3 separate regions of the Homo sapiens genome follow, and all the other regions are linked to region 1. A link means that fine-mapping ties the variant in region 1 to the plasma level of a protein whose gene starts in the linked region. Region 1 holds a variant in brackets. A gene starts in each other region. All regions are shown on their forward strands.

Region 1 (8,147 bases):
TTTCAGGATCCGCAGAGCTCAGACGCACACCCATTGTCGGGAGTACAGACCCGTGCCTGCCTGCGCCCAGACAGCTGCACACAGGGTGAGTGGGCAGACACACAGACACACACTGACACACACAGACACACACAACACAGATACACACACACGACACACACAAGACACAGACGCACAGAGACACTGACACACACGCATGATGACACACAAAATGACACACAGTGACACAGACACACACTGATACACATGCATGATGACACACAAAATGACACACAGTGACACACACAGACACACACTGACACACACGTACAATGACACAGACACAGAGACACACACTGACACACACGTACAATGACAGACACAGAGACACACACTGACACATATGCATGACACACAATGACACACACAGACACTGACACACACACAGATACACACATACAATGACACACACAAGACAGACACAGAGACACACACTTGACACACACACAATGACACACACAGACACTGACACACACACTGTGGTGCATGGTGTGGTCCCTAACGAGCCATGACAAGAGCTCCCATGCTGAGGCCGCATGCTGGGTGTCCCTTGTGTTTGCAGAGTACAGCATCTCGGCAGCCGCCATCGCCATCTTCAGCCTTGGCTTCATCATCCTGGGCAGCCTCTGTGTCCTCCTGTCCCTCGGGAAGAAGAGGGACTATCTGCTGCGACCCGCGTCCATGTTCTATGCCTTTGCAGGTAGACTGGGGGATCTGCCTGAGCGCCGGGGCCGGGGGACCATGTCGCGGGGGATTCTCCGCTCCACCCTCATGCCCACCGCGAGATTTGGGTGAGGGGCATTTCCCAGGCTCCATCCCCATCCAGGGGCAAACCTGGCCAGGCCATCAGCGACTCCAGGTGGGTTGGAGGGAGACAGAGCTTGGCGGTTTGTCCATTCCTCTCCACGACTCAACCCTCAAGGCCCCAAAGAAACTGCCCAGAGAATGATTAACAAAAGAAGGAAAGAAACGTGGTCACCTTTCTTTCTTTTTCTTGGGGGATGAGGAAGAGGGTCTCGCTCTGTCATCCAGGCTGGAGTGCAGTGGCACAATCACAGCTCACTGCAGCCTCGAACTCCTGGGTTCAAGGGTTCCTCCCGCCCCAGCCTCCTAGTAGCTGGGACTACAGACGTGCACCACCACACCTGGCTAATTTTTCATTGTATTTTAATTTTTTGTAGAGACGGAGGGCTCATCACTATGTTGCCAGGCTGGTCTCAAACTCCTGGCCTCAAGCGATCCTCCTGCCTCAGCCTCCCAAAGTGCTGGGATTACAGGTGTGAGCCACCACACCTGGCCACATGGTTGCCCTTCTGAGGGATGCAGGAATAGGGTGGTGGGTGGACAAATGGATCCTTCTGCAGGTTCCCATCTAGAACCTGCCTTGAGGCAGCTTTTCCCCCAAGGCAAGGTCACCGCCTCCTCCATGCACACAGGCTGGGATGGGGCTGGTGGCTACGGCAGACGCCCCTCGGTCCCTGAGCATGCCTGGCTCTGCCCCCAGGTCTCTGCATCCTCGTCTCGGTGGAGGTCATGCGGCAGTCGGTGAAGCGCATGATTGACAGTGAGGACACCGTCTGGATCGAGTACTATTACTCCTGGTCCTTTGCCTGCGCCTGTGCCGCCTTCATCCTCCTCTTTCTCGGC[G/A]GTCTCGCCCTCCTGCTGTTCTCCCTGCCTCGAATGCCCCGGAACCCATGGGAGTCCTGCATGGATGCTGAGCCCGAGCACTAACCCTCCTGCGGCCCTAGCGACCCTCAGGCTTCTTCCCCAGGAAGCGGGGTCTTGGCCTGGAACCTTCCAGAGAGGAGGCGGGAGCAATTTTAGCCCCACCCTGCTCCCATCTGCCCCCCTGCAACAGTCGCAGGCTGCTTCCTCTCTCTGAGTTCCTCTGGGCTGCCGCAGGCTCCCCTGGGAATAGAGCAAGACGTGAGTCCTAACCTGGCCACAGTTGGGGGAGGCAGAGCCAGCAGGTGGACAGGTGTTTGCAGGGGCCCAACTTCCCCTGGAGCTCAGAGGTGTCCCCACTGTACCAGCCTCTGATAAGCTGCCTCCAGTTGTCCTTTATGAACATTGCAGGGACAACCTGTGTTTGCCAGCTGGGTGTTCCGTGTAAATAGCCAGCCTGTCTCTTTCTCGGTGATAAAACACACCCTCTCTGGTGAGCCCAGCGTCCCCTCCTTGGCTTCCAGGAGCCCTGGGAAGCATTTTTAACTGGGTAGAATCTGACTGTGGCTTGAAATAAAAAGCTCTCAGAAAACTCATGCTTTCCTGGAGCCTTGCATAGAAATCGCTCGGATTCCCAGTCACATCAGGGGCTCCCCTGACGCCGAATGAGAAGGAAAGGCCGGTCACCCGGGTATGTTGAGGTCTTTTGTGGGGACAAGAGGGCAACGCACGTGGCTTAGAGGCTCTGAATTCCAACTCGTATCTCTAGGCCCTGAGATTGTTTTCGGGAGAAACTAGAAACCCTCTGATGAAGCAAGGGTGTTAAAAATAGGAGGGGTTATTTCTAGAGCCTGGCATGCAACGCACCTGGTGCCAACACAGCGCTAAAGCAGCCAGCCAGTGTCTGATTTCTGATGTTGGATTTTTCTTGTGAAGAACATCAGGAAGCAGGGCTTAGCAGTTAGACACTTAGGGCCACATGGAGAGCCATGATTTGCACTCTTCTGCCTTCCAAAACCCCGCAGTACTTGCCCAGGCTTCCAAAGTGGAGTTCAGACATGATCGGCAGATGGGATCCTTGCCTTGCACCCCGGAGAACCCACTGGAGTTCACGCTTCTAGGGCAGGGTTTGGCAAACTATGGCCCATAGGCCACACCTGGCCTGCCCCCTCTTGCTGTATGGCCCACAAGCAAAAGGTAGTTTTTACAGTTTTAAATTGTTAAAAAAATAAATAAAATTTTTTTTTTTTAAAAAAGGCCAAGCGTGGTGGCTCACGCCTGTAATCCCAACACTTTGGGAGGCCAACATAGGTGGATCACAAGGTCAGGAGTTCAAGACTAGCCTGGGCAAGATGATGAAACCCCATCTCTATTAAAAACACAAAAAATTAGCCGGGCATGGTGGCATGTGCCTGTAATCCCAGCTACTCGGCAGGCTGAGGCAGGAGAACTGCTTGAACCCGGGAGGCAGAGGTTGCAATGAGCCGAGATCACGCCATTGCACTCCAGCCTGGGCGACAGAGTGAGACTCCATCTCAAAAAACAAAACAAAACAAAAAAACCCCCAAAACAATCAAGGAACTGGGCATCACGGCTCACACCTGTAATTTCAGTAATTTGGAAGGCTGAGGCAAGAAGATTGTTTGAGGCCAGGAGTTTGAGACCACCCTGGGCAACACAGCAAGACTCCATCTCTATAAAAAATAAAAATAAAATAATTTACAGATAAAAAGAAGAAGAATATCTCATGACACATGAAAATGATAAGAAATTCACATCTCAATGTCTGTAAATAAAGTTAGATTAACACCAAGCCACGCCCATTCTATGGCTGCTTTCGTCACCATTGAGTAGTTTCAACAGAGATCTTCCATCCCGCAATGCTGAAAATATTTACTATCTGACCCTGTATGAAAAATGTGTGATTACGCCTGTTCTGGAGGAAAACTACAACCATCAGCCCCCATATCAACCTCTTACTGGTCCCATCTAAAAGCTGAGGGGAAGTTCATTATTTCAGTTCGCCTGCGGTATCTCGGGGGTGTGGGCTGGGCTAGGAGGGGTGTCAGAGGAGACTCACTCAAAGACGCAAAGATCCAGCCAGGAAACAAACTTGCTCCAGGTAAAGGAGAATCAGAAGATGACTGTCCTGGCCAGCCAGGGAGCTGGGGCCATGATTTATGAGTAAGAAGGAAGAGCGATAACTTCATCCCATTGATAACCATTTTGGAGGTTGATATTATTGGTGTTTTTCTTTTTTTCTTTTTTGAGACAGGGTCTCACGTTGGAGTACAGTGCCCAGGCTGGAGTACAGTGGCACAATCACAGCTCACTATAGCCTCGAGTTCCTGGGCTCAAGTGATCCTCCTACCTCAGCCTCCCAAGTAGTAGGGACTGCAAGCGTGCGCAGACCACACCCAGCTAATTTTTTTTTGTTTTTTGTTGAGACAGGGTTTTGATATGTTGCCCAGGCTGGTCTCTAACTCCTGGGCTCAAGCGATCCGCTAGCCTTGGCCTCCCAAATTGCTGGGATTACGGGCATGAGCCACCACACCCAGCCTTTTTTTTTTTTTTTTTTTAACAGATCGGAGTCTTGCTATGCTGCCCAGGCTGGCCTCAAACTTCTGGGCTCCAGATGTCCTCCTGCCTCAGTCTCTGGAGTAGCTGGGATTACAGGTGTGAGCCACCATGCCTGGCTCCAATATTATTCTTTTATTACTATTTTTACTTTTAGCAGAATCAGACTGGCATGCATTTTTTCTTTTCTTTTCTTTTTTCTTTTTTTTTTTTTTTCTTTAGATGGTGTCTTGCTCTGTCACCCAGGCTGGAGTGCAGTGGTGTGATCTCAGCTCACTGCAACCTCCGCCTCCCGGGTTCAAGCAATGCTCCTGCCTTAGCCTCCCGAGTAGCTGGGATTACAAGTGCCGGCCACCACACCCAGCTAATTTATTTTTGGTAGAGACGGGGTTTCACCATGTTGGCCAGGATGGTCTCGAACTCCTGACCTCAGGTGATCCACCTGCCTCAGCCTCCCAGAGTGCTGGGATTACAGGCGTGAGCCACCATGCCCGGGGCCTTGGCATGCATTTTCTACTTCCCCATGGATGCCTATGGGTCGGTCCCCCCAAAACACATCTGAATGGAATATCCACCAAACAGAATACATTCGGCTTCCCAGGCTTTTAACTCTTCCAAGATATACTTCAGCACAGCCAGAACTGCGATACAAACCAAAGGGTTGGAGGCTGGCCGCCAGAGAGCCACACATCCTGGCATCTGCCCCAGAAAGAGGCAACGCAGCAAAGCAAAATAAAGTTGACCAAACCAATGAGGGAAAACGTCTTACTCCCCACCCGCCAAATGCTGCTTGCCAGAAGGATGTCCACAGGGGAAAATGGTTGGCTTTGCCAGGGACTGAAGGCCTCACTTCAGGGTCCATGCAGGCCCTGCTCTGAAGGCCACCCAGAGCCCAACCACAGAACAAACAGTGCCATCTGCCCTGAAGCCTTGGTTGGCCTCAGAAGCTACTGGCTTCTCATTCCTTGCTGTGGGAACTGTGTGTTTTTTTGTTTTTTTTTTTTGAGACAGAGTCTTGCTCTGTTGCCCAGGCTGGAGTGCAGTGGCATGATCTCAGCTCACTGCAACCTCCGCCTCCCAGATTCAAGCGATTCTTCTGCCTCAGCCTCCTGAGTAGCTGGGACTACAGGCGCCCACCACCACACCTGGCTAATTTTTGTACTTTTAGTAGAGACGGGGTTTCGCCATGTTGGCCAGGCTGGTCTCGAACTCCTGACCTCGGGTGATCCGACCACCTCGCCTCCTGGAACTATGTGACTTTGACCCACAGCACACCTTGATGTCCTGTCACACTTGCAATTTCTCAGCGTTTTTTGTTTTTTTATTAATTTTATTATTATTATTATTGAGACAGAGTCTTACTTGCTGCCCAGGCTGGAGTGCAGTGGTGCGACTTCAGCTCACTGCAGCCTTGACCTCCTGGGCTCAAGCGATCCTCCTGTCTCAGCCTCCCGAGTGGCTGGGACCACAGGCACGTGCCACCACACCCGGCTAATTTCTGCAATTTTTTTTTAGAGACAGGGTTTCGCCATGTTGCCCAGGCTTTCTCAGCGTTTTTACATCCATCATCTTCCGTGAGGCAAAGAAGGCAGCAGAGGCAGGACCAGCAACTAGTTCATCAAGATCCAGACTTAAGTGTGATTTTTTAAGAACTGTGGTAAAATACACATAACGTAAAATTACCATCTTAATCACATTTTCGTGTAGAGTTCAATCACGTTAAATACACTCGCATTGTTGTGCAACTCTGAACACCGTGCATCTCCAGAACTCTTCGTCATCCCAAACTGAAACTCACAAGCACTAACTCTGCGTCCTCTCCTTCCCACAGCCACTCTTCCACTTTCTGTCTCTGGGAGTTTGACTCCTCTAGGTACCTCGGGATCAGCGGAATCATGGAGTATTGGTCCTTTTGTGACGGGCTCATTTCCCTCGACTGCTAATGCCTTTAAGGTTCATTTGCACGGTACCAGGTATCAGAACTCCCTTCCTTTTTCAGGCTCAGCAATATCCCACTCTACGTATTCCCATATTTTGTTTATCCACTCATCCACTGATGGACGCTGGGTTGTTTCCAACTCTTGGCTCTTGTGATTTACTGCTGCTATCAACACGGGTTCATGCTCTGCTTCAGGCCCTGCTTTTGGTTGTTTTGGATGCACTGACTGGGACATTTTTAAAAAATTAAAATTAATGCAAAATCTCCACAATTAACACCATATCAAAACTATTAAGTAGGTGCAAACGTAATTGCAGTTTTTGCCATTGAGAGGAATGGCAAAAACTGGGCAGATGTGGTGGCTCATGCCTGTAATCCCAGCACTTTGGGAGGCAGAGGCGGGTGGATCACTTGCGGTCTGGAGTTCAAGACCAGCCTGGCCAACATGGTGAAATCCTGTCTCTACTAAAAATACAAAAAAAAAAAAAAAAACAGCCAGGCGAGGTGGTGGGCACCTGTAATCCCAACTACTTCAGAGGCTGAGGCAGGAGACTCGCTGGAACCTGTGAGGCGGAGGTTGCAGTGGGCCAAGATCCTGCCACTGCACTCCAGCCTGGGTGATGGAGCAAGACTCCATCTCAAAAAAAAAAAAAAAAAGTAATGGCAAAAACTGCAATTATGTTTGCACCAACCTAAATTAGAACCAAGGCTGCTGTTTTCCCACCTGTCTGATGAGGGCCCTTACCAATCCTCACTTGGCCTCTGCCCAGGTTCCTGGGAGAACCAAGAGATGGCTCCCTCTCTCTCTGGCCAGCACACGGTAGGACCTGCTCCAGTGGCTTGGTGCTTAGTTCCTCCTTAAACTGAAAATTTCAAGGATCTCTGTGTACCTCTATTTTTTTTTTCTGGCTGTGCCGGTAAAGACGGATTTTAATCACAGCCTATCGCAATATTTCCCCTGCCAGTGTGACTTGTTCCATTTTGACCAAATATTTTATTTACAAATCCATTTCTAATTTATACCCTGCCCACTTTCAGAAATGATTAGAAGTGGAGACAAGGTATTAATAAACCTATGATGTGGAACATATCTATTAAACCAATGATTGGTATTCAGGCTGGGATGCAGCTGCCCCTGGCTTCCCCAAGCCTTCATTTCTCAGTCTCACTCAATTGCAACCACTGAGGCCATAAATTAATCCCCACACAAGGCATTGATCCTGCACATTGGAGAAAGTTAATTAAGGTCATTGCCATTACAAGCAGCGATACTTTCTATTCTTTTGGCTTTGCTTCTGACAAGAATTTTTGCCTAAATGTGAAAGCCTGGACTTTTTGGAAATTTTCGTCATTTAGGGGATATGACTTTCATACACAGCTAGCCCTACCTTACTGCTACATTATTATTATTATTATTATTATTATTATTATTATTATTAGAGACAGAGTCTTGTTCTGTCGCCCAGGCTGGAGTGCAATGGCGCAATCTCGGCTCATTGCAATCTCCGCCTCCTGGGCTCAAGCAATTCTGCCTCAGCCTCCCAAGTAGCTGTGACTACAGGCACGCACCACCACACCCGGCTAGTTTTTGTACTTTTTGTAGAGACGGGGTTTCACTATGTTAGCCAGGCTGGTCTGGAACTCCTGACCTCAAGTGATCCACCTCGGCCTCCCAAAGTGCTGGGATTATAGGTGTGAGCCACCGTGCCCAGCCTTGTACTTTTGACCTCTGCTTCCTTCAAAAAATTCTCCAAATTTTCCCCCGAATATTTCCGTTGTCCAATGTTTGTGCTTCTACCACCTGCCCTTTAAACTTTGGTGTTTTCTGCCAGGTCTCATCTCACATCACAATTTCTAGGAAATCCCATTCATCTCCAGGACATCGGTTACCTGTGACCATCATAAGCCCCTGCCAATCTCTCATTCA
Region 2 (8,179 bases), not on the chromosome of region 1:
TTCCATTTTCCTGAAAGTTTAAGCAATATATCGTATGTATTCATGGTTTCTATTTCTTCTGTAAATTGCTTTTTGAAATCTTCTACTCTACTTTTAAATTAATAATATTAACTCTATGATGGGTTTAAAATAACTTTTTCTCCTTTCCTTTTTTACTTTTTGATTTTATGGTGTCTTTGCTAGAGATAAAGAATTTTAATATTTTATTTACTCAAATCTGTTACCTTCTCTATAGCTTCTAGATTTTCTTACTTTAACACGTGTCTCCACTTATGAGAGTATTATTCAAACACTGTCATAATTGTTCTTCAAATATTTTTATTGTTTAATTTTTTAACTTAAAACTTTATTTCTTCTATAATTTGCTCTTCTTTATTGTGTGAATTAGAGGTTTAAAGTTGTTTATTCCCCACCCATCCACACCCGCCATGTGCCTCCAACTTACCAGAGAGACATACCACCACCAGTTTCTGTTATTTTACCATGATGCTGATTGCAGTATTAGTTATGGTGGTCAAACACTGAAAACAACCTGAATGCCCATCAAAAGGTATGTGATTGAGAAAATATGGCATACTACAGCACATCCATACCATGAACAATTATTTAGCTATTAAAAAAGATTGAGTTAGGTCTATGTATATTAACATGAATGAATGTCTGTGAGAGGAGGTTACATGGAAAAAGAAAGTGGAAAATAATGTAAATAGTATAATCCCATTCATTAAAAAATAGATGAAGAACTCTCTACATATGAATATATACATTTATACACGTATGTATGAGCACAAAGGAAAATTAGACCCTAATTCACACACTGGAATGAGGATGAGGTTGGGGAGAGAGTGAAATTCTTGAGATTGCTTATTTACTATTTATACTTCTCCATATTCTTTGGTTAACGCGGAGAACACTATTGCTTTTATTTTGAAAGGTGAGAGATTGATACTTGCCTATCTGACATCCATTCTCCTTGGTCTCTTTAATAACAGAATTCCAATTTTACCTGAGAATAAGACTACATTTCCCAGCTCCTTTTGTAGTCAGATATAGCCATGTAACCAAGTTCTGGCCTGTGGGATGTAGTAGATGTGTGTGGGACTTCAAACAAGTCTCTTTAAAATGAAGAAAGTGACTTCTTCCTCTTCCTCTTCTCCTTCTCCTTCTCCTTCTCCTTCTCCTTCTCCTTCTCCTTCTCCTTCTCCTTCTCCTTCTCCTTCTCCTTCTTCTTCTTCTTCTTCTTCTTCTTCTTCTTCTTCTTCTTCTTCTTCTTCTTCTTTTCAGCTGCCTGGAATAGGAATGTAGTGTCTAGAAGATACACAGCTATTTTGGACCATGAGGTTACCAGGAGGATGGTAGAGCAAGAAGGAGGAGTCTGGTTTCCTGGATACACTGTGAAGCCACTGTATGACTCTAAGCCATTTGCTTTTAGACTTGCTTTATATGAGGGAGAAATACTTCTATCTTGATTCAACTGTTGGTATTTTGTAGTTTTGTGTTGTATTTGAACAAACTTCATCCTCAATAATACAAAAGGAAAAATCTAATACAGCATTTAGCAAAAGAAACAAAAGCCTGTTGACCATCCCCCTGTCTTTCCTGAGAGTACAGCTAAGGCATCTGCAACCTTCTAGATGAATGCATAAGATCTGAAATAGGAGTTATGTATTCCTAAAACAATATAGCCCTAGGAAAATTACACAAGTCTACTTGTTATCCTAATTTAAAATTTTACCTTAACCACCTGATACACTGTACAATAATTTGTCCTAGAATTTGTCCATACTTCCAATTCCTATAATAATGCTTTGCCTTTTTATAATTAATTCCTTTATTACCAAAAAGTTCCCCAGGTCATAAAATACTTTCTCTGTGGATTGCAATATTTCCTGGCATATGTTCACTTCAGTAAGACGATCAGTGTATTAAAAACCCAATGGGGTTTCTGCAGAAGCCAATGATGGCATGGCACCTCTTTTGTGGCATGTGTGAAATCTGCCCTTCGCTGTAAACATTCTTATGCAACATGACACTCTGCCCTATGTCCATTTCATATGTGGTGTTCAGTGTGCTGGGAATGCTGAAAAAAACAATTCTCTCTTAGAGATTTCCCAAGTAGAATCACAGTGTTAAACCTATCAGCAGCCTCCAAGATCATTTTTTTTAAGCCCCTCATTTTACACAAAAAGAAACTGAGGCCCAGAAAGCCCCCTGACTTTCTCAGAGTAACTAAGCTGGTTAATGATAGATCCAGAAATAGAACCCAAGGGACCAACTTCAGATTCTAGGTTCTTTCATATGTTTCATCTATTAATTGATATCCCCAGAGCGGACTCAGCAAAGGAACGTTTTTTTTTTTTAAAGTACAAAAATGTGTTCAGTAGTATAATGTGGTTAAGGAGGGGCTGTCTTTATAAAAGATGTTCATTACCATCTTGACTGGCTTCCTCCCCCTCCCCGCCACATAACTAAAGCATGATGCTATTGAGTTCTAAGTCTAGTTTCCACCCTTATATGAAAAGTCAGCTTGGCACAGAGTTTGGTAGAGCTAAGTCTGACCAGCTGCACTCTCAGCCACAAGGGAAATTAGACGAGACAGTGTGGCTGCTTCAGTACCAATCAATCAAAGTTTTTGAAAATTATCTTGAAAACACACACCAATAAAGGCATGTGTGTAGTTGTCTTTTCATATAAACTCAGGTTAGTCCTAGTGCATGTGAACAAAGAAAGTAAGGTGTCTTCTTCAGGTTGACTACTTGGTAGTTCCTATTTCTCTATCAGTTCCATGAGCGTTTTGGGAGAAAGTGACCACATCTACTACAGTCTTTCAACATCTTAAGTTAGATTTGTGTACCCTCCAATTGAATCACTTGAATCAAAACAATAGCTACTAGTCTATTTGACTTTCTTTGCCCAGGCCCCATATATATCTTTTTATTTTATTTTTATTTTTTGTAGAGACAGGGTCTTGGTTTGTTACCCAGGCTGGTCTCCAACTCCTGGCTTCAAGTGATCTTCCCACCTTGGCCTCCCAAAATGCTGGGATTATAGGCCCCAGCACTGCACCCAGCCTCCATATATATTTTTAAGTGTATAATCCAGTGGTTTTTAATATATTCACAAAGTTGTACAACCATCACCACTATCTAATGCCAGAACATTTTCATCATGACCAAAAGAAACCCCATATGCACTGGCAGTCACTCCCAATTCCACCTCCCTTAGGCCACTGGCAAACACTGATATACTTTCTCACCATATGGATTTGCCTGTCCTAGATATTTCATATAAGTGGAATTGTACAATGTGTGTTCTATTATTTTTTATTATTATTATTATTAATTTGAGATGGAGTTTCGCTCTTGTTGCATAGGCTGGAGTGCAATGGTACAATCTCGGCTCACCACAACCTCCGCCTCCTGGGTTCAAGTGATTCTCCTGTCTCAGCCTCCCGAGTAGCTGGGATTACAGGCATGCACCACCATGCCCAGCTAATTTTGTATTTTTAGTAGAGACGGGGTTTCTTTATGTTGTTCAGGCTGGTCTCGAACTCCTGACCTCAGGAGATCCACCCCCCTCAGCCTCCCAAAGTGCTGGGATTGCAGGCATGAGCCCAGCAGTGATCTATTATTTTATAGTCTACGTTTGTATGTCTGACTGACTTCTTTCACTTAGTGTAATGTTCTCAAGCTTCATCCACGTTGTAGCATGTGTCATTGCCTCATTCTTTTATATGTCCTATAATTTTGAAAAATGATGTTTTTGGAAAAAAATGCAAACGCAGAGTATCCCCTAATAGAAATCTTTGCTATTCTTAGAGAAGAACATGAGACAAGTTATTTAACCTAGAGATTTGGCTTGAAAAATTAATATTGACATATCAATGAGGAATAAGAAAAAATATAAATGCAATAATTAAGGACTGATGAAAATGAAAAGCTAATTGGAGCATAAAAGTGATCATCTGAATACAAAGACTTTTCTGCCTAATCTTAGTGAAAATTAAGGTATAGGTTGGATTGGCATATTATGATTTTTAATTTGTTTTTTTAATCATCCAGCAAACTTTTTGCACTCCTGAGTCAGCACATGCATCTGTCAGAGAGAGAAGAGCAAGACGGAGCACGAGGCTGCAGCTGAATTTAGAAAGTTAGAGGTGTTCTCATCAGCCACATGAGATGGGCAGGAGATTCCTTCCAGTAGGCGAGAGAGCAGAGTGCAGACAACAGATGTGAGAAAGGTCCCCATAGCTGTCAAGTTCCTGCATCCTTGTGCTGAAGAAAGGGAGGTGCCATCATGATTGATGTTCAGAGGCAGTATAAAAGCACTGGGTTTCTCCCCAACTGCTTGTCACACCGACCTGCACCATCTCTCGCCTGCCTGTGGGGTTTCTGTCAACTAGTCGTGGAGGGAAGGAGACTCTTTAAAGAATAACATCTTATTGTGGCCATGCCAGAACCCACTAAGAAAGAGGGTAAGACTTATCTAGAAATCTTTTTGTTGTACTCCTGAATAAAGTGTTTATTTTGGTATTTATCTTCAAACAAATAACAAATATCTTAACTAGATGAGAAAATAAAATCACTATGATTTAAGGAAACGATCTTTTAGATTAAACAGACCAGAGGAAAAATACAGCGAGAGTATATTGAATTGAAAAATTTCTGATAACGATAGTTTCTAAAGGGATATTGACTAAAATTATCAAATGATAATTCTATCATTCAATTGTAAAGAATCCTTAAAGTGTAATTTAAGGATGTTAATTGCTGATGGTAAACAGATTACGTTTTCAAGCATATTTTCTTAGATTTAATCACAAATTTTTTACCATGTATTTGCAATTTGCAGAGAGTAGGAGACTTAAAATATTTTCTCAAATGGTTAATACATTGGATCAAGATTTCAAAAAAGAATTTGTGACATTATTTCCATATTTGCTACTTTTTTTAATGGAAACATATTTAAAATATACAGACGAAGGGTTTTTTTTGTTCTTATCAGTGCCTTTGGAGGTTCGTTATTAAATTCTTGCATGGAAAGAAAACCAAACACCTGATAAAAAAGGATGTCCCTGAATATCATGAATAGATTGTTCTTTCATGAGTTTTATTGTAGAGAATTTCATAATATGTAGTAGGCTTTAAGAATAGTTAAGCTGAAAGTATAAAAATATTCTTCCTTAGAAGAAATGTTTTCCCTAACAAAGTTTCTCCTTTCTATAAAAAAATTAGTGTATTAAAGCTACCAATTGGTAACAGAAGTAAATTGGAATTAGTAGTTATGAAAATAAATAATAATAAGCACAAATTAATACTATGCATGCATTGAATTTAATTTTTAATTAAAATATCTTTTAAAAATATTATTTCATTTATATTCATCTTCATTAATGCTTACTGAATCTTTATTTTTCCCTTCTGCAAATAAAAGAAAAAGAAAGATTAGCAGGAAACATAAAAATAGTCATAGTTTTCAGTTTTTAATTCTTAAAAATGCTTTAGCTATTATTTTAAGGAACCTTGAAAAAGATGTTGAAATACTAACCAAATTATCAAAAGTCTTTTAAACATATTTTCTTTATATAATTAAGTAACCAGTGTTGACAGGCTGTGGTGATCAGTTTACAGGTTGGCCTTACTTAGTGGCAGAGGGCATTGATGGATGAAGTCTTTCACCCAAAATAACCACACCAAATGCATGTATTAATATGGGAACTTAATCCTGACTGTCAGGCAGGGAGTCCAACCCCTGCTAAAGTATCTTATTTGTAATGCAAATGATTTACGTGTGTACTAAGTGTCCTTTTTATCTGCTCTGTCACTTTAACCTCTCCGAAGTGTACCCAGAAGCAATACATTCTACCATGTTTCCAAACTGGAAACACAATATTGTTTTAATTATTCTGAATTTAGTGAATGATTTTGCATTTGTTTTTTTAAAGCCTAATTGAAAATGAGAAGAAAGCTGAAAAACCAATAAATAAGGTGACAGCCTGTAAGAGCCAATAAAGCTAATTAAATTATTCTGATCGCAAAGGCGATGAAGTTTACTTTTCATTTGACAACTCAGTCTGATTCACTCTTTTATGGGGAATGAAATTATAGAGCTGCAAAGAGGAAAATATATCTTTAACTTCAGCCCCCACCCCCCCAATATATATTTTTTTCTTTCTGAATAAAACAGCATGGATGCTAAAGACTCCATCATCTTCTTTTGCTATAAAAGCATGTTGCTATTCTGTGTAGGAGTTCCTCCACCCAGGACAGTAATTTTATACCCATAAATTCTTTGGTTAGTGTAAATTTGGATGATGGGGATTGGGGCAAGAAGAGTTACTGATATATTTAAAATCCATTGAGGAAGTACAGAGATTTTTTTGGTTCCCTTACCAGCAGAACTGATTCTTAAAGGAACTGTACCTTGAAAAGCTTTCCTTAGTGAAATAATTGCATTTTAATATTGTTTACATTAGAAGAGTAAGGAGTACGGCAATTCATGAACTATTCTGGTCCTTTCTTCTTCTCCTAACTGTGATTTCATTTTCACTGGGGTTAGTTTGATTGCATATAAGCCTCCCTCTGAAAAATAAAACATGGCCTAGAGCCAGTTCTTCAGAATCATTTCAAAATACCTGCAGAAACCCTCCCAAAGAACAGGCTCCTCCAGCCCATATGGGTCTTCTGAACTCTTCCCCACAGCTCGTAAAGCCATGCCCAGGAAGGCCATGACCACTTGCTGTGAATCTTAATAGGACACATGAGCTGGTTTGGCCCTCCTAGGATCCAGGAGGATCTGGCAACTCCTCAAAAGAGGCTGAGTTTTCAGCACCTGAAGGTACAAAAAATGTCTCACTCAACTACTTCCCAGCCTACCGTGGCCTAATTCTGGGAGTTTTCTTCTTAGATCTTGGGAGAGCTGGTTCTTCTAAGGAGAAGGAGGAAGGACAGATGTAACTTTGGATCTCGAAGAGGAAGTCTAATGGAAGTAATTAGTCAACGGTCCTTGTTTAGACTCTTGGAATATGCTGGGTGGCTCAGTGAGCCCTTTTGGAGAAAGCAAGTATTATTCTTAAGGAGTAACCACTTCCCATTGTTCTACTTTCTACCATCATCAATTGTATATTATGTATTCTTTGGAGAACTATGTTATTTGTACTGTCTATTCCAGATAAAACTTACCTTACACCACTTTGGATTCTTACAGAACCTAAGGCCTAGTACAATTAAGTTATTCCGATCAAATTGGGAGGATGTTGTAGGCAGTTTCAGATTTGTGGGGATCTCCCAGGATGCCTTTGATACATTCATTTATATATCAATTATTAATTGAGTACAAGTAAGTGCCCGAAAGTTAATTGCCCCCGGTTCCTACTGTGTAAAGAAATCACCTTTCTTTTTTTTTTTTTTTTTTTTTAAGACAGTATCTCACTCTGTGGCCCAGGCTGGAGTGCAGTGCCACAGTCTCCGCTCACTGCAGCCTTTGCCTCCCAGGTTCAAGTGATTCTTGTGCCTCAGTATCTCAAGTAGCTGGGATTACAGGTGCCCACCAACACGCCCAGCTAATTTTTGTATTTTTAGTAGAGACGAGGTTTCGCCATGTTGGCCAGGCTGGTCTCGAACCGCTGACCTCAGGTGGTCCACCTGCCTCTGCCTCCCAGAGTGCTGGGATTACAGGCATGAGCCACTGTGCCCGGCCAAGAAATCACCTTTCACTGGAAATTTCTCTTTTCCAGTCAAAAAGAAATTTTATCAACCTCAAACTAGACAATTGCAATAGCCTTTCTTCCGTGGCAGAATCTCTGTTCATTAAAGAATAGTATGAATGGCTGTTAAACCCATAAAAATGATTTCCTCAGAATTTTACCTCTGGAATATGTAATGATTAAAACCATAAAGCCTGATTCTTTAACATCCTGCGACAACTGTTAACTGGATTCCTTTAATTTTTTATTTATTTTTTATCTTTTTGAGAAAAGGTCTCATTCTGTCACCCAGGCTGGAATGCAGTGGTGCAATCATGGCTCACTGCAAACTCTGCCTCCCAGGCTCAAGCAATCCTCCCACCTCAGCCTCCCCGGTAGCTAGGACCACAGATGCATGCCATCATGCCCAGCTAATAGCTGATTTTGTTATTTTTAGTAGAGATGGGGGCCTCACAATATTGCCCAGGCTGTTCT
Region 3 (8,179 bases), not on the chromosome of region 1:
TGCCCTCACCCAGCGTGGCCAGCACGTGGCGAAGCTCAGCACCCATGACAGTGCCATTGCCCTCCTTGTCGAAGACCCGCAGCCCCTCCACGAAGTCCTCATAGGTGCCTGTGTCCTTGTTCTTGGAAATGTGCTGGAGCATAGGCAGGAAAGTTTCAAAGTCCATCATCTTGGTATTGAGCTCTGCAGAGAAATGGTCCCAGGTTCCAGGGTCTAAGGCTGGGGTGGGCACACCCCTCCCCCATGCCTGATAATGAGGAGCTATCCCCACCTCTCACACAGTTCTACAACAGTCTACACCAGTTCTCACAGCAGTCTACACCAGTTTGCCATTTAAAAGCAAACTACCATCGCGAGGCACTTTACAGTCTACTGAGCAATGCACTGTTTCCATAGCCCTTTGCTATTCACAAAGGGAGTTTGCTGCCCTGAGCCACCACGGAGGGCTCTGTCCAGAACCCCTTGCCTACTTTTGGGAAACAGTCCTCCCCTCGTGGCATTTTCTTATAGACCTCACCCTCCACCACCTGTGATTGGGTCAGGAGCAGCTAGGCCAATCAGAGACCTTCCCTGGGACTTTTGAACCCTTGGTGGGGGCTTGGGCCTCACTCCTTTTTTTTTTTTTAGCTTTAAAATTTTATTCATTTATGTATTTATTCATTCATTTATTTATTTTTAGACACGAGGTCTTCTTGTTACGTCACACAGACTGGAGTACAGTGGTGTGATTATAGCTCACTGCAACCTCAAATTCCTGGGCTCACGGGATCCTCCTGGCTCAGCTTCCTGAGTAGCTGGGACCATAGGTGCATGTCACCATGCCAAGCTAAATTTTTAATTTTTGTAGAGATAGAATCTCACTATGTTACCCAGGCTGGTCTCACTCCTGGCCTCAAGTGATCCTCCCAAAGCATTGGGATGACAGCATCCCACTGCCCACTGCTGTCACTGCCCGACCTTCTCACTTCTCCATAGGTGTCAGCGCCTACCACCAGGGGGCCTGGCAAATCAGCATGGATCCAGATGCTCCAGCAAACCATTACTGCATGTCACCTGGTCGGCATGGCCCTGTGACTGGCCTCGGTGCCCTCATCGGGACAATGCGAGATGTCAGGAAAGATTCTCGTGCTATCCCGCAGGATGGATGGCAGCCCACCCAGCCAGTCTCCCCGGTACTAACACTATGGGGGCTCTCGGGCAGGTGCACTACCTTCCTGTCTTGGCTTCCCCAGGACACGGAGCACTTCTGCCTGTGTGGGGTTCTGGCCCAGCGCCCGCAGGACATCCCCACACTGCCCGTAGGTGATCTTCATCTCACACTTGGGTGTGCGGTCGAACAGCATGAAGGCTTCCTTGAACTCTGCCAGGAGAGGGCAGTGAGCCACAGACACTCCCAGGGTCAGCCTACCCCACTCCCCACACCCCTGGCAGGACCCTCAGACCAGGGAACCCCAGCCCAATCCTGCAACCCCTGGGTTCAAGACCCCTGCTCACCTTCAATCTGCTCAGGTGTGAACTCAATCTGAAAAGAGACCCCAAAGACTCAGATGCCCGGCTTAAAAGGTGGGGCCACACCTCCTCCTGGGCACTCGGTGGCCAGCCCAGAATGTCAACTGTCTCAGCCTGTCCCATTCCAGCATCCCAGCCTGCACCCCCAGGACCTCCTGCAGTCCATCTTGACGCCCTCCTGCCTCCTTGCCCCCCTCCACCTCTCCAGCCAGAAGGCCTTGAGGCTGTGTGCACCGAGGCCCTGATGCTCGGTGGACCCTGGCAGGGGTAGCAGTGAGGAGGGAGGCCACATGCCCAAGGCCTCAGGCCAGCGTGGGCCTTACCTGATGCTCCCGGTTCTGGACAGATGTACCTTAAGCCACAAGCCCCAGTCAGGCTGGCTTTGCTTGGGGCCTGGTGGGCAGGACTGTCAGCAAAAGTGAGATGGGAGGGCCCAGGGTGGTAGAAGGAGTAAGGGCAATGGTACAGGCCGAGGGCTGGTGGCTGGAAGCATCGAGGGTGAGCACAAGTGTGCATGTTTGTGTGTGAGCATGTGTCTACATACGTCTGCCCTCACAGAGCCCCCTAAGCCCTAAAGACCAGGCAGTCACTCACCAGCCCCACTATACCTATTTCTCACACACCCTGTCCGTAGGTCCCTGGGAAGCTCCCACACCCCAGGACAGCACAGGGCCAGGGCAGTGCTGCTGAGTGTTTGCTGAAGTCACATTGGGGCCACCTTGATTGACGTCAATCAAGAGGCCTCCCGGGATCCAGTGTCCCCCTCCTCACCGGATACCAGGTCTATTTTTATCACTGCAGTCACTCGCCCCAAGGTCAAGGTCACACAAGGGAAAGGAGGTTGGGGGAGGGGCATGACTGGCGTCTCTCTCATGGCTGCTGCCACGGAGCCCCACCAATCTCCACAGTGCATGCCGGCACAGAGGGACACCCTGTTCAGGGCCACCCTACCATGACTGTCCCTCCTGGCTTCTGGCTTGACCCAGTGTTGGGAAGAACAGGTTGTCATTCCTGGCTCCCTGAGAGCTCTCTCCACCAGGAAGCCTACTGAGATTAGGGTCTCTGGGCTCCTGGCAAAGGCTCCCTGCCCTTTACCTGCAACCTGGGGATGGGGGAAGAGGGCGCATGAGGGGTCTCATTGTCCCCACCTCTCAGAAGGAAGTCTGTGCCAACCTAAGGCCTGGCGAGAAAGGACAATGCCACTATGGGCCGTGGCTGTGGTCACAGCCTCACCATGAGGCCTGCAGAATGCAAGCCTGGGACCTGGGTGGCCAACTCCAGGTGCATATACTCTGAATGGTTCCCAGCAGCCCTGCAAGAGGGGACTTGCTGTTCTGTTTCACAGCTGAGGAAACCACGCCTCAGAGCAGCGAAGAACTTGGCAACTAAAATGGAGCAGAGTTGGGATTTGAACCCTTGCCTCAAAGGACATGGTAGGTGTCTCTGGGAAGGGCTCATGAACAGGAGGCAAGACTTCACCGATGGAATGTAGGTCCTGCTGGGCATGCAGGGATGGCGAGGGTTCCACAGGGCTCCTGAGGAGGCAGCCAGGGCAGCAGTGGTCCCAGCCAAGAACAGGGAGCAGGCAGGACACAGGGTACGTGCTGCTATGCAGATACCACAGGTGGGAGTCATGGCTCCCTCCAAGTTTAGACTCTGAGAAAGACTTTGCAGTTGGGGAAGGGCTCCTGGGGCCACTGGTCATAGCTCCATGACCAGCTTCCTGCACAGCTTTCAGAATGTCCCCAGCCAGCTGATGCTTCAAGTTCCCTACCTAAAAGCTGAGGCCTGGAAGTGCTCTACCAGCTCTGGGCTCGGTGATTTGAACGAGACCCAGCCTGGACAGGGGCCCTGCTTCTTCTTACTCCCTATCTCATCCACGCTGGGAGCGTGTATGGACTTGGGACCCCTCAGCTGAACAAGGAAAATCCCTGCCTGGCTCCAGCTGACTCCAGGATTCCCCAAGGATGAGAAGTCCAGGAAGAAGGGCAAGGGAGAGTCCATTTCCAAAACCACTAAAAAGACAGTCCAGACTCAAACCCCAGTCTAGACTCCACCTTAGTTCTCAGCAGCACCAGAGGAGTCCTGCAGAACGTCTGACCACCATCCCTCCTGCTGCAGCCCTTCTGATGCCTGAAGCAGTCAGGGCTTGTCTGACCTCTGCACAGAAGCTTCCAGCGTCAGCTCAGTGCTCACCTCCAGAGCCTGACCTGCCTCTTGCTAGGTCCACTCTGGGATCCACTCACTTGCCCTGCTCCTATTGCCACCACCCAGCTTCCATACCCACCTTGATCTTGGAAGCATCAAACTCGACCTCCTTAGGGCGCTCAGGCTCAGGGGGAGGTGCGGGAGCTGGAGCTGCCTTGGGGGCTGCCTTGGCATCATCCTTCTTGGGCTCTGGCTTTTTGGGGGCCATTGGGGGCTGTAAGTACAGAGAGGGATGTGGAGAGAAGAATGCAGAAAGCAGGGTAGGTGAGCCGCCTCACCCAGGCCTTTATCCTGCCCGGATACCTCATGACCCCAGCCCCACCCCTGCAGTGCACAATAGGGACAGGGCCATAAAAGGATATGGCTAGGCTTAGGGGCTATTTTGGGGCCTGGGGAGGGCATTGTTCAGGCTCAGGAATGGGTAGTGGAGGAGGGATCTCCATTCCTCCCAATCACCTGTTGGGAAGGGGGAGGGAGAGAGGGGGACAAAGGCCACTGCTTAACACACACATACACACATACACACACACTCATCTGCACACCCGCACATACCCACACAGGGCCCTGCTGCCTCTCTGCAGGTCCGTAAGTTGAAGAGGTGAAGAAGGGTGGACCAAGTACATGCTACGTGTTGTGTTGGGGCCAGAAGGACTGGGATGATCTAAGGGCACCTCTGAACTTAAGCTCTCCAAAGTCCCCTGTGTCTGTGTCTGTGTCTATGACCGTGTCCATGTGGGGGAAGGCGGAAGTCAGCATGTGTCTGTGTGTGTTGTCTGTGTCTGTGTCGGGGTGTCTATGTGTCTGTGGGTCTCTCTGTGTCTGTGTTTGTGTGGAGGGGGGTCTGTGTACACCTGTGTGTATTGTCTGGGTGCCTCCGTGGTGGGGGGCTCTGTGCGTGCCTATGTGTGCTCCGTATCTGTGTCTATGTAAGGGATGGCCCGGGTGTCTGCATTTGTCTCTGTGGGTCTGGGTCTTTATGTGTGCGTGGTGTGTCTATGTGTCTATGTGAGTGTGTCTGCGGGTGTTGCTTCTGTGTGTTTATGTCTGGGTGTTTACATGTGTCTGTATGTGAGTGTCTGGTCATGGCAGGCAGCTGTAGCCCTGGCTATGGGTCCAAGGGTCTCCAGGAACCCCCACAAAGGGCAAGAGAAAGGATGCTGCTCCCTCTAGGGCAGTCGCCCCAGGCCAGTTCAGCAGCCTCCCTCTTCAGCCCCTGCTGGCCCAGGGACCAGTTTCTCAGCTTTCACCCCTAGATTCCTACTTCCCCTCTCTACAGGCCCCAGGGATGCACATTTCCCTACACACCCCAGGCCTGGCTCCCCACTGCACCCTCTGCCCAGAGTGCCCTCGCCCCCTCTGCCTGACATATTCAAGGCTTGGCTCTACTGGCCCTCTTCCAGAAAGCTCTCTCCAATGCTATTCCACTGCCACATGTTGCCCTCTGCCGACCCTTTTGGCAGGGGCTCTGAGAGGGTCTGCCTCTCTGAGGAACCCCAAGCTGCCAAGCAGGGTCTGCCCCAGTGCAGTGATGCTCATTCCCTGTTCCTACCACTCAGTGCCCACCCCCAGTGCCCATCCTGCAGTGCCCGGCCCCCAGGGTCCATCCCAAGCCCAGCCTTCAGCAGATGACAGTGACAGAGTACAGCCTGACGGGACTGCCACTTGGGGAGGTGGGAGGGCTGAGGTGGCACAAGGCTCTTCCCGCATGGGGACGCCAACAGTGGGGACATCTTGTAAACACATTGGGCTCTGTTCCTTGCCCAGCATCTGTGCCTGGGGGGTGGGAAGGAGGTGCTCCTGGTTACTTTTAAGTGCCTGGAGCCTTTGATAGAAACTTCAAAGCCAGGGATTTCCCTGGTGTGGCAAGGGGCTAAGCCTGAGGCTGAGAGGTGCTGTGGGGCCCAGGGCCTCTACCTGGCACGCCCTGCTGTCTTCCTACTGGGCCCAGTCCCTCTCATCCTGTCACTCCGCCTCACAGGGAGGGACAGCAGTCCAGGGCTGGGGCCAGCCCGCTCCTGACTGGAACACGTTCTGCCTCTCATCTGGAGGGCAGAACACCCACATCTGGAAATCTGACAACATCCGGGACTGGCGGGGGGGCAAGTTTTTCACTTTTCTTCCAAATGTTTGGCAACAGTATTGAGAAAGAAAGGGGTGGGGGGATGGTCAGTGGAGACGAGCCAGAAATACCACAAGAGGAGAAGACAGCCAGAGGGCCACACAGAGGGGCCCCGGGGAGGCCCCACCACCCAGGCCTGCCGACCCTCAGGACAACGGGCTCTGGAAGTCACACGGGAGCCCCAGCCACCCACAGACACCGCCAACAAGACCAATTTCCTTGTGTTCATCATGAGGGAAGCAGAGGGCCAGAGCAGAGGACATATACAGGGCCCTCTCTCCCATCTCATTTCTTTCATCCTCACACAATTACCACCCCTTGGAAACCACCCAACGTTGGCCCAAATGGGGGTAAGCCAGTGACAAGAGCATCCTGGGCCTCAGTGTCCAGGTCTGTGATCTGGGATGGGCAGGCTCATGCAGCCAGCCAGAGCCACATAGTGCCACCTTCCTCCACCTGTGTGTGGCAGAGTCAAGGCAGTGGCTTGGGCCCCTCCTGTCACACACAGGGCAAACGTGGTCCTGCAGCAGGGACAGGGTGCACAGAGCCATCCTCACTCCCTCATCAGGACCCAGATGAAGGCTAGGGCCAGGATGGTGACTGCCTGAGCTCTGATTCTGGGCATGTCCCTGCTGGCTTGGGAACAACAGTGCCCCAGGACTCACCCACAGGCCCACCCTCAAACCTATAACAACTGCCTAGCCCCCAGTAGGCACTCTTCAGGACCAGCCAGAGCCCTCCCAGGCACACCGAGACCAGGAGCAAGGCATGGGGTGAACAGGAGGCAGGAAGGTGGGCAGGGAGTTGGGGGTGGAGGGAGGGAGGGTGGGCAGCAGTTGGCGGTAAGAACAGGCCACACCATGCCTGGCACTTCCCTCTCTCTCCCACATCCCAACCTGAGCTTTGTGCCCTTCAGGAGTCAGCCTAGCAGGCAGGATCTGGGCAGGGCCTCGGGGGCCTGGAGAGCCAGGGCTGGGGGTCTGGGTCCTACTGCTTCAGCTCCCAAAGCTCTGATGTCTGAGCTGCAGCCCAGTGTGCTGCAGGCTGGCACACGCCATGTCCCAGAGCCCTCTCAGGCAGCCACTTACCTCTCCCTTCCCCCAGCCAAGGAGAATGCGGGGAAGATATGGGCCCTGACTTCTGAGGAGCCTGTGGACTAAGGCAGGAAAGCCCGGCCACGCCGGCCTTCTTCTGGGCTCTTGTTACCTGGCGTCTTCCGTGTGTCCGCCTTCCTATGAATGTCAGCCATCACAGGAGGGAGGAATGTTCTGCTCTTCCACAGCTACATTTTCCCAGGACCTGGTACACCACAGGCATTCAATAAATGCTGGATGAACAAATGTTCCAAATATCTCAGTTTACCCACCTCTCACAGAGGTACTGGAACCCCTTGCTAAACCCTGTCCTGGAGTGGGCCCGGAGAGATGGGGAGATTTGCCAACTGACTGACAGGAGCTCTGGCGGTGCAGAGGGCACTCTGGGACAGTAGTGCGGCCAGCAGCTGCCTCCAAGCCCACCCACCACTTCCCCATGCCCACCCCAATTCAGGCGTGCTCTTCACAGACTAAAGAGGTGAGGGTGACCCCTGTGGTACAGGCAGTGACTGGACCACGATCAGCCAGCAGGGGGCGCAGAAGGGATGGGAACCGACCTTTGGTTCCTGAACTCAAACCCCAGAACCCAGAATCCCAACCCAGACCCCAGATCAGGAAACCGGAACCCCAAGCTCAGACCCCAGACTCAGGTCTCACAATTTGAGTGCCAAACTCAGAACCCAGAACCCAGATTCCAGGACTAGACCCCACTGTGGAGACCTAGACCCAGATCCTGGCACCCAAACCCTGACCAAAGACTCCAAGACCCAGGATGGTAAACCCGGACCTTCAACCCAGACTCCGGACCCCAGACCCCAGACACAGGAACCAGGATTCTAAACCCAGACCCCAGATCCAGGACTCAAGCCCCAGGACTCTAAACCCAGACTTCCAGGACTGCAAACCCAAACCCCAGACCCAGGACCCAGGACAAGGGCTGACGGATTTCCAGATCAGCGTGGCCCTGTGTGGACAAGGCCAGTGGGAAGGGGCACCGGGGGGTCACACTCTTGGCAACAGCGGGGGTAGCTGCTTGGCAGACCTCCCTGGTAGCGTTCAGAAGGGCATGAAGAATGTCCATCATCCTGTCAGAGCCAATTTGGGGAGCTCAGACTATGGTTGCCACGTGGAGGGTGGGCAGAAGGAGGTAAGGGCCAGCTGTCCCCTGGGCCTAAGAGCCAGAGGCAGGGAAACAGGGTCGGGCTCCCCACGTGCCCTTGTCCCCTGGGCCGCAGTCTCCGCAGGCAGC

Alleles and levels. Positions count from the first base shown, and alleles are read on the strand shown. Strength reflects both the effect of a copy and how common the allele is.
With allele G in place of A in region 1, the plasma level of the protein whose gene starts at base 4,350 in region 2 is lower (weak association).
For the plasma level of the protein whose gene starts at base 3,979 in region 3, G is the low allele of the variant in region 1 and A is the other (weak association).

The links. A credible set is the group of variants that fine-mapping cannot tell apart. PIP is the chance, under the fine-mapping model, that this variant and not a neighbour inherited with it causes the effect. The UK Biobank Pharma Proteomics Project read protein levels with antibody pairs (Olink). The fine-mapping took linkage between variants from a reference panel, not from the people measured, so its PIPs are less certain.
Region 2: it holds the start of MYBPC1, and the variant in region 1 is the best candidate, but not a certain one, in a credible set for the plasma level of the MYBPC1 protein (UK Biobank, PIP 0.60).
Region 3: MYL3 starts here. The variant in region 1 is the best candidate, but not a certain one, in a credible set for the plasma level of the MYL3 protein (UK Biobank, PIP 0.73).

The regions. Positions count from the first base shown.
Region 1 is chr17:67,054,502-67,062,648 of GRCh38, forward strand. It overlaps CACNG1 (calcium voltage-gated channel auxiliary subunit gamma 1), which reads left to right. Exons shown (of 4, transcript NM_000727.4): 3 at 602-739; 4 at 1,544-2,296. The coding sequence ends at 1,770. Among named protein-coding and RNA genes, the nearest start is that of CACNG1, 14 kb to the left of the region's middle. The variant G/A (reference allele first, on the strand shown) is at 1,687.
Region 2 is chr12:101,590,622-101,598,800 of GRCh38, forward strand. It overlaps MYBPC1 (myosin binding protein C1), which reads left to right and starts at 4,350. Exons shown (of 32, transcript NM_002465.4): 1 at 4,350-4,474. The coding sequence starts at 4,450. It overlaps LOC105369938 (a long non-coding RNA gene), which reads right to left. Exons shown (of 5, transcript XR_001749279.2): 5 at 7,933-8,179.
Region 3 is chr3:46,859,466-46,867,644 of GRCh38, forward strand. It overlaps MYL3 (myosin light chain 3), which reads right to left and starts at 3,979. Exons shown (of 7, transcript NM_000258.3): 1 at 3,797-3,979; 2 at 1,495-1,522; 3 at 1,211-1,360; 4 at 10-183. The coding sequence starts at 3,925. RefSeq lists an enhancer at 831-1,331.